Linked DNA regions of Homo sapiens. The protein of the gene in region 3 interacts with the protein of the main gene of each other region in a pairwise test. Each region holds a gene or a part of one and is shown on either strand. Other genes may lie near its edges. The genes, in order: FMR1, ORMDL1 and PCNX2.

Region 1 (3,659 bases), on a different chromosome or scaffold from region 3:
ATATACTGGAATATTTCAATTTCAGTTCTAAATTTACAGTAAACACTGTTACACAGAATTATCAGGAAATTGAATGATCTCCTTAAAAAGAAAATTACTACAGATAACAGATTATTGATGTCAAGAATTAGAGATATAACAAAAACACTCAGCAGTAAAATTATACTGAATAAAATTTAAAGTTGTCTAATTTGGCACTATTATCCAATTATTCTACTGCTAAGGCACAGATATGCTATTTTGGGGACTTCTTCATGATAGGATATTAAATAAAACATGCTAAAATGTATGAATATAGATAAATGACATTCAAGGTATAACCAGCTAACCTTAAAAATCACACATTGTAAATAATCTTGATTAAAATAGATTTGCCAGTTAATATCTTAATTTACAAAGCATTGAGTTTGGGCCATCTTTTGTTTTAAAAGAACATATACTATGGTTAAGGAACAATGATTTTTTCATCAACTGAAAATGCTGACTATTCCTCATGAGGGGAAAACAAAACTATTTAATAGCTGACCAGACAGCTAGGTCTTACATCATGCCTTGAAAACTTCCTAAAGACTACAACTCTGCTACAACAAGTACGAGAAACAGTATACATTTAGTTGATAGAAATATACACCTGGGGTCCAATGACAGACCCTTACAAAAAGCACTTCCAGTATGTTGGGTTCTGTTAAAACCAGATGAAACCTCATTTCTAACCACTGTCCTTCCAATCCACTCATAAACATCTCATTTACTGGCTACGGGGAATCAGATTCATAACTATAGTAGTAGTAGGCGTCTCAGTGAAGCAGAGGTTATCATAGAGACTGTCTACATGAACAGTCATTGGAGAAGCTCCTGTAAAGCTAAGTTTCTAAAATCTTGGTTGTGGCAGCTTCTGGAAAAGAAAGGTCAGGTAAGGATTTGGTCCGTTTCATCTGTGCTCTGCCATCATTAGCAATTTACATAGTTACACCAGAATCTGTTTTACATAGAATTTGAGCAAAGGAGAGACTGCAGCTGAGTGAGTGACTTCCTCCAAAGGTATAGTAATAGCTCATGGAATAGGAATATCTTGCAAAACAGAAGAGTAGTCCAGGTTATCCCACTGGGGCAAAGCAGTCACCTTTTGGTGAGAGATGCCAGGCCCAAACGAGGGAAGTTCTGGTGATGGAAAGAATGGCAACAGGGCAGCTGCTGATAACCAAAGAAGATATTCTTGAGAATAAATCAAAGGATCTAAGAAAGAACATTAGTCAAAAGAACAAGGGATTTGATACAATGCAATCCTAACTCTCCAGGCCTTCATGATGATTTAAGCTAATTACGAGAGAGACACACACACAGAGAGATTACACATAAACATACTTAAAAAAAAATCAAAGAGGTATCCTACCCATGTAAACCTTGCTGGATGAAACCTTTCCACTTTTAATTAACTGGCCACCATAAGAATGAATGGCATGCCCAGTATTACACTTTTTCTTCCTTTCATTCTTATTTACACACAAGCAGAAATCATGTACTTTTTATTTCTTTCAAGAAATCAGCAAAAAAATTCTTAATGCCATAAATAGAGTTGAAATGCTTTTTAAAAACATTTAATACCAGCTACATTATAATTTTGATATGTATGGATACAAATAAAACATTATGAAAATGAAGTAGATCAGTTTCCATTTCATTAAAGTATAGAACATTTTGGCCAAAAGGAATTTCAAGAAGCATCTAGTGTAGGGAAGTGACTTGCCTAAAGTCACACAGCTAGTTCATTTGCTGAAGTCTTATAAGTAAATTGCTGCATTGCCCATCCAGTGCTTGCTCCACTACACCTTGTAGCCTCCTCGTTCCTATCTTCCAGTTTGAAATTTTAAGGAGGCATAACCGCATCACACTAACTAAACTGAACATTTATGAGAAGACACAAATAGTTTGTATTTTGAATAACAGTAAAGAGAAAAATAGGGTAAACATTTAAACAAAGAACTTCATGAAATGCTTAGATTTCCTTGATAAATGACATAAAAGGAACAATAAAGGCAAGAGTTATAGACACAGATTTTTGTCTGGAAAAAACCAAAATGCTAGAAAGGATCAAATGGATTAACAGGCTATGTACAGGATTGCCTAAACTGAGTGTAAGGGTTTAAGAGAAGAATAAAGGGAAGTATAAAATTTTATTGAAAACTGGTATATTGGTACTTAAATTTATAAAGACTTCCATTTTTAAAAAAATTATAAGCCAAACAACGTATTTTCTCTATTACCTTTGACAAGTCATACAGTGTTTTGCACAGGCTAGAATGAGTCCTAACTGCTGAAAGATCTACTATAAAGTTTGTATATTTTAGTACAAAAGGATTAGAAGTTAAAGTTCTTTCTGTTCTCACCTTTAAATAGTTCAGGTGATAATCCAAAAGAACAGTGGCATTAGCGATGCTGTCCTTTGTTCCCACAAAAACAAATGGTACCATACCCTGAAAAAGAAATTGCAACAATGATCCTATAAAAGTAATGATAGATTAATCTGAAAAATGCAAATAACGACTAATTCCCTAGCACAGGATCTGGTGAACAGCAGGTATACAAATGTTTGCTGTAAATATAAATCAATATATGAAAACAAAAGTAGTTGATATACTACTTTACACATCTACTGTGAATACGAATAGATCAATAGCAACCTTTTAAACGTATCAGATTATTATAAAGACTAGTATTCAGTATCAGCAAAATCACAAAATGTATAATTCAAAATTATACAAGCTTTACCATGAGATGTATAAACAAAATGAGTAGTATAAGATGCTCTAATTCATTTATGAAAGGCTTTATCCTGATCAAAATTTTTTCTTTTTTTTTTTTCTTTTTTGTTTTTTTTTTTTTTTTTTTGAGACGGAGTCTCGCTCTGTCGCCCAGGCTGGAGTGCAGTGGCGGGATCTCGGCTCACTGCAAGCTCCACCTCCCGGGTTCACGCCATTCTCCTGCCTCAGCCTCCCAAGTAGCTGGGACTACAGGCACCCGCCACTACGCCCGGCTAATGTTTTGTTTTTTTAGTAGAGACAGGGTTTCACTGTTTTAGCTGGGATGGTCTCGATCTCCTGACCTCGTGATCCGCCCGCCTCCGCCTCTTTTTTTTTTTTTTTTTTTGAGACAGGGTCTTTTTATTCTGTTATCCAGGCTGGAGTGCAGTGGCATGATAATGGCTCGCTGTAGCCTCGACCTCCCCAGGCCCTAGGTGTTCCTCCCACCTCAGCCTCCTGGATAGCTGGGACAACACGTGCATGCCATCATACCCAGCTAAATTTTTGTACTTTCTGTAGAGACGGGGTTTCGCCACATTGCCCAGGCTGGTCTCGAATTCCTGGGCTCAGGCGATCTGCCTGCCTTGGCCTCCCAAAGTGTCGGGACTACAGGCATGAGCCATCGCGCCTGGCCGATCAAATTCTTAAAAAAAAAATCAAAATGAAATACCAAGGGTACAAAAGTAAAAAGTAAATCATTTCTGCTAACCAAGTAAATAGAGTACACACAAAATACAAACAAAAACATCAGGATAAAAATGCACTGAATAATCTGTGAGACAAAAAAATAGGTACATTGACAAGCATTAAGTTTTATCAAGCCCATACACATTTCAATAATGTACTCTGAAAATTTTA
Region 2 (2,445 bases), on a different chromosome or scaffold from region 3:
TAAAACAAGAGGAATCGGTTTGGTCCCAAGTTTATCTCATTAGGAACTAAAAAATTTGTTTAATGGAGGTCCACATTTTCCATTTCTGCAATTGTATTAAATACATTTAATAGAACACACTGCATCCTTTAAAGCAAGGCTTATCAAACTAGGGTTCATATGCCCTCTGTAATTACAGGTGTAGTTCTGTATTTCCATGTATGTTTCTGAAAAAGATATGGATTCAAAGCATTCATCTTATTCTCAAAAAGTTTTGTGACTCACAGGTTAAGAACCTGTACTGTAAAGCTCCAAAAAATGGGGTTTTAGTGCATTAGTACAATTCCTATCTTTGAAGGAAATAAATATTTGGTTGCCCTTTTGATGTTCTCATTTTCATACTGTAGTTGAGCAGCTCTATAACCAGTTTAACCGGTAACCTGAAAGACACTGTTGTACCATTCCAGCTGCTTTTTAATAATCAAATGCATGTATGTTTTTGGATATCCAACTGAGAATTTGTTTTAACAAGCCCCAAGCCTAAAAAGCACCTTTAAAATCATAAATCACCAAGTCCAGAATGTTTAGTTTTACCTACAGGTATATCATATCAAGGTGCAGACACATCATCTGATTACTAACAGAATAATACAGATAAGATGTAAAGAATAAAACATCATATCTTATTTGTTCATAATTAAGAAGTTAGTTTCTATTTAGGTCTTTGCAGTACGCAAGGAAAGTATTCTAATAGCCTTTACTGACATTAGTTTCTCATAAGGGAAAATAAATATCTTGTGTAACATGGTTAGAAGAGAGGAGCTACTTCCAAGTATGACAAAAAACATCACAAGAGAATTTTATACATTTTTAAAACCATCTAGATTGAGAAATTCTACAATCTTCCACCTATTTTGCAAACTACAGTCAGAAAATTCTTTCTCTAGTGTAAACCATATTCCTCAATTCTGAAATTCTTTCTTCCTGTTTTCATATATTTGAAGACTAAATTTATACTTCCTTTACTGAACAAAATAGGACATCACTTGCATTTAGCAAACTCATTTCATTTCCCACCATCATTACAGGTTGAATCTATAATCTGATAGGTTAGAAATAATAAATCTTATAATGGGTTCTTTTGACTATAACCTAGCATATGTCCCCTTTTTGTCTTTTAATTAAAACTAATTTTGTGTGTAGATTATATGAAAATTACTTGACTCTTTCAAAAACTTAGGCAATCCTCTGATGGTATGCAAAACCCAGGTGGGACTCAGTGTGACAACATTTATTTGCCAACAGCTATATTGGAAAGAGACCTGTATTACAAGATAGTAGTTTAGGGTTTAACCTGAGCTCTGAACTCCAACTAGGTGCAAGATCTTCAACAAGGTAATGCATTTGAGTCTGTTTCTTTACTTAAAAATCTGGAATATGGTGGCTCACCCTGTAATCCCAGCACTTTGGGAGGCCAAGGCAGGCGGATCACCTGAGGTGAGAAGTTCAAGACCAGCCTGGTCAACATGGTGAAACCCCATCTCTACTAAAAATACAAAAAGTAGCTGGGCACGGTGGTGCACGCCTGTAGTCCCAGCTACTGGGGAGGCTGAGGCAGGAGAATCGCTTGAACCTGGGAGGCGGAGGTTGCAGTGAGCCAAGATTATGCCACTGCACTCCGGCCTGGGCAGCAGAGCAAGACTCTTGTCTCAAAAAAAAAAAAAATTCTGGAATAACATTCCATGTCACACCTACCTGACAAATAATCAAATAAGAAAATGTGAAAGCACTGAAAAGTCCTAATGCTATATAGATGGCTTTAATGCTATTTCTTCAGTTAAGTAAGCAATTTAATCAGAATATTTGAAATCATACCTGTTGGTCAAAAATACATTTTGAGAAATATGGACACTGTATACAGGTACATCTCAGTTGGCTTTTTGTGTGATAGCTGTGATTAAAACTTCTGAATGTCAGGCATTTTACATGTATTATAATGCAATCCTCAATGTTTTACAGATGAGAAAACTGAGCTTTTGAAGAAAACGGCCAAAAGTCACAGAGCTTCAAAGGGGTTGAGCCAAAATCCAAATTCAGGGCCATCTGAATAACCAATATTTTTGTTATTACATGCATGCATGCATTCATTCACTTATTTATTTAATAAATCGGGTCTTGCTCTGTTGCCCAGACTGGAGTACAGCAGTGTGACTACAGCTCACTGCAGCCTCTTAACTCCTAGGCTCAAACCATCTTCCTGCCTCAGCTTCCCATGTAGCTTACATTTATTTTTATCAGACTACACTGACACTTTTCTTTGAGGTTAATATTATATGGGACTAAATCAATTCAAAATTTCCTCAAAGGGCTATAAATTAAGGAAAAAGAACCCCATTATTTTATGATCAGTTTATTCCTTTCACTTTAAAAATGCCTTCCCTTACTTAAATATCTAAAACCTAGTCT
Region 3 (3,659 bases):
TGATGAATCAGAATGAAAAATAAGGAGGGCGATTTGTTAGTTTATTCAGTGTCTGGCAAGGCCGGACGTGTGTTTGTGATTTCTATCGTAAAGCTGATCACTGTCCAAAAATACTCCACATTTATCCACAAGTCAGTGATTGTGATGCTCAATAGAAGACCACCCATACTTGGTGGGGAACTTCCTAGAGAATTCCAGGAACAAGGGGACAAATAACCCACTGTGTGTCAAAGGGAAGTGGCCTGCTGTAGTCTGTGCAAGACAAGGACTCCCCCGCCACCCGATTTCATTGCTTCAGGTTTTCTCATTGCTCTTTTTTTTTTTTAATTAATTTTGCAAATGGAACAGCACTAAGGAAGCAAACCATGCTAAATGCATTTGTGCTACTCAAGATCATTATTTTACAATTTAACTTATTTTGCAAATAACTCTATTACCAAGTTATGAATGTTTCTAGGGAAAACCTTTTTAGAACCTGAATGGAAATACCTTACATATAAATCACCCTCCTTGGTTTATTATCGTGGCACTTAATTCCTTTGTCTTTGATGTTATCTGAACAATCGTGGTGTAGCTCCTTAGTAATATGAGAACACAGCCTCCCTCTCCAATCTGGGATTCGGATTAGTTATGAATTCCTAACTGCTCACCAGTAAGTAGGTCACCAGCCTCCACTGCTAGGCCAACTCCCCTTCCAGCTGTGACATATGCTTTTTACCCCAGCAAGACGTTTGCAGGTTGTCAGGACCTAGATGAGGCTGGCGTAGTGAGCGCCTGGCAGCTGGGTGCAAAGTGCTGTGTGCACCAGCAGCAGCAGATGCACAGCGTGGCTGGCCTGGGGAGAGGAGTTCTGTCTGTGAGGTCTCAGGCAGGAGGGACCCCAGTCCGCTCAGCCTCTAGCAAGGGCTCAGGATTGGGATACCTGACCAGAATTGAGGCAAGGACCAACGAAGGGTGGGGGCAGTTGGGTCCCCAGTTATGTGAGTTGAGTCTTGGTGACTTGGTGAGTAAAACAAGACCCTTGTTAGAATTTGTTTCAAATTCGCCCTTCAAAACTGCTCACTCGGCCGGGCACGGTGGCTCACGCCTGTAATCCCAGCACTTTGGGAGGCCGAGGCAGGCAGATCACGAGGTCAGGAGATCGAGACCATCCTGGCTAACACGGTGAAACCCCATCTCTACTAAAAATACAAAGAATTAGCCAGGCGTGGTGGCGGGCACCTGTAGTCCCAGCTACTCAGGAGGCTGAGGCAGGAGAATGGCGTGAACCCAGGAGGCGGAGCTTGCAGTGAGCCGAGATAGCGCCACTGCCGTCCGGCCTGGGTGAAAGAGTGAGACTCCGTCTCAAAAAAAAAAAAACTGCTCACTCTTTGCTACTTGGCTAAGGGTCTCTGTCATGCCCTTCCCAGAGAGGCAGGTCCTCCACTCTGAGAGGCCCCCAACCACCTCTCCAATGGCACTCAGCACACTGTGTTGTCACTGTCTGATGCACGGTCCTCTCCACTATGTGCCCTTTCTGCAGCAAAGGACCCCTGTATCACTTCTATGAGCTCAGCACCCAGTACACTAACATGTAAGTAAAGGATACACAGGACAAACCTGCAAAACTGACCAGATGCCAAAACGCTGATTAGAAATCCAGTGAGCTTCAGAAAGTTCGGGGTGGGTACAGTGTTTCTTAAACTTGGCCATTAGAAGCATTTCAAAAAATTAATCAATATCTTGACTAGAGGCTGAGACCCATAGGCAAGCGCCTGTAGATGGGCCCAAGGGGCTGCCACTGCAGACTGGAGGGCAAGCTAAAGGTTAGGAAAATAGGAAGGTGATTCCTCCATACTTCCAGGGTCAAGTCCAAAGATCTGGGATCAGGGAATGTTCTCCCCATAGCTGGAGACTGGCCTCTAACGCCCCTGCACTGGCCAAGCAGGTCTCTGGCTTCCTTTCTGGGAGCTGTGTGTCTCAACTCGGACGGGCATGGTTGTTTTACTTAACTAGAAGGAGGGTGAGAAGGAGGCCAGAGACTGAAATCAAATCCAGTTATCCTCACATCCCTGAAGGGAATGATGGCCTGCTGGGAATGGCAGGTAGGTGGTTTCCGCAAAGTGTCCCGGGCAGGGCCAGGCAGAGCCGCCCCTCCCGTTGTGGTAGCCTCCTTCTTGGGCTTGCTCTCCTTGGAACCTGGGCTACCTGCACACTGGGTCTCAGGTGCAGTGTCTTGAGGGGAATGAAAGCTCTGTGCTCCCGGTCGCAGTCAGTGCTAGAGAGCCTTCTGGATAGTTGAATCACATCTTGGAGGGATTCTGGCCGGGGGATTGGGGCACCAAGGTCATGATGGTACATTTCAGGAGAGCCAACAAGATCGGCAGCTCTTGGCTCCACTGCTCTTGGCTGTGACAGAACCTGCCTACAGCTGCAACTCTGAGACCCAAGGGCTTTGCACCCTCGCCCTCTAGGGAAGCTGTAGTGTAAGTGGCTGAGGCCAGGAGGGGTAACCATCCACTCATTCGTCCAACCTTTGTCTGCTGAGCCCAGATCATGCTTACCACCCAGCCCAGCACCTCAGAGGTTTCCCTTGGTGGCCCCTGCAGCCGTCTCTGTCCCCACAGGGCCAGGAAGCTGTGGAGACAGGAGCACGTCAACCAGCTCCCACCCACTCCTGCTTGGCCGTGTGCTGGGTTCCCAGGACTCCAGAACTCCCTGCCCCAAACTGGGGCCTGCACAGGCCTCTTCCCCAGGGTCGTCTCCCAGGGCGGACCTTGGGCCTACTTGCAGGCACGTGCACCCCCAGACGGGCATGTGAATGGGGAGGCTCCAGTGCATGCAGGCAGCCCCTCACCTGGCAGGATGTGGGGAGAGTGGGGAAGAGGGTGGTGTGGTCTTCACATGTGCTCCTGTCACAGGCTCTGCAGAAGTTAGGGCTGCCCACCTGAGCGTCCACCGTGGGCTGCACTGTCCTAGGTGCCGGGCAGTGAGCAGCTCATGGGAAATTCTGACCACAGACAAGGCACATGCATCAGGCAGGGATTGGAGGGGAGGAGAAAGTGGGGCAGGGGGACAGCAGTGCTGTATGGAAGGCTGGCCAGGGTCTCTTGGATAAGCTGGGATTTGATGGGAGGCTGTGTGAGTAAGCGAAGGAGCTGCAAGCCTGGGAGAGGGACACTGGGGACAGAGGAGGCAGCAGCTGAGGGGGCCCTGGAAAGGAGAATGCTTGACACTGTTGAGGGACAGCAAGAGACCGTGTGCTGGGGATGTGGGCTCATAAGAGAGGGCTGAGAGAAGGGAGAGAAGGCGTGAGAGAGAGAGCAGACCAGATGGGGGCCTGCGGGGGAGGGGTGCTCATGGGATGCGCGTGGGTGTTCCGGGCTGAATCATGTTCCCTCCCCAGACTCCTCTGTTGAAGCCCTAACCCCCAGGACCTCAGGGTGGGGCCTTACTTTGACACAGGGTCGTTGCAAATGTCATTAGTTAAGATGAGGTCATACTGGAGTAGGATGGGCCCTGAGTCCATGATGACCAGTGTCCTTATAAAAAGGGGACGTGTGGACACAGAGAAGTACAGGGAGAACATGATGTGAAGACCAAGCCAGAGCTCAGTGGTGCTTCTCGAGGCCGGGGGATGCCTAAGATGGCCGGTGAACCACCACAAGCTAGGGAAGGGT

What was found.
Region 1: the proteins of PCNX2 (region 3) and FMR1 interact in a two-hybrid assay, tested with the Homo sapiens proteins (one large-scale study listed by IntAct).
Region 2: the proteins of PCNX2 (region 3) and ORMDL1 interact in binary tests that used the Homo sapiens proteins (3 or more experiments, as listed by UniProt).

The regions. Positions count from the first base shown.
Region 1 is NC_000023.11:147,939,391-147,943,049, reverse strand, and holds part of FMR1 (fragile X messenger ribonucleoprotein 1), read right to left. Parts: intron 2,475-3,659; coding exon 2,388-2,474; intron 1-2,387.
Region 2 is NC_000002.12:189,772,033-189,774,477, forward strand, and holds part of ORMDL1 (ORM1-like protein 1), read right to left. Parts: intron 2,083-2,445; coding exon of another isoform or gene 2,073-2,082; exon of another isoform or gene 1,817-2,072; intron 1-1,816. UniProt on the Homo sapiens protein: Plays an essential role in the homeostatic regulation of sphingolipid de novo biosynthesis by modulating the activity of the serine palmitoyltransferase (SPT) in response to ceramide levels.
Region 3 is NC_000001.11:232,988,108-232,991,766, forward strand, and holds part of PCNX2 (pecanex-like protein 2), read right to left. Parts: intron 1-3,659. UniProt on the Homo sapiens protein: May play a role in tumorigenesis of colorectal carcinomas with high microsatellite instability (MSI-H).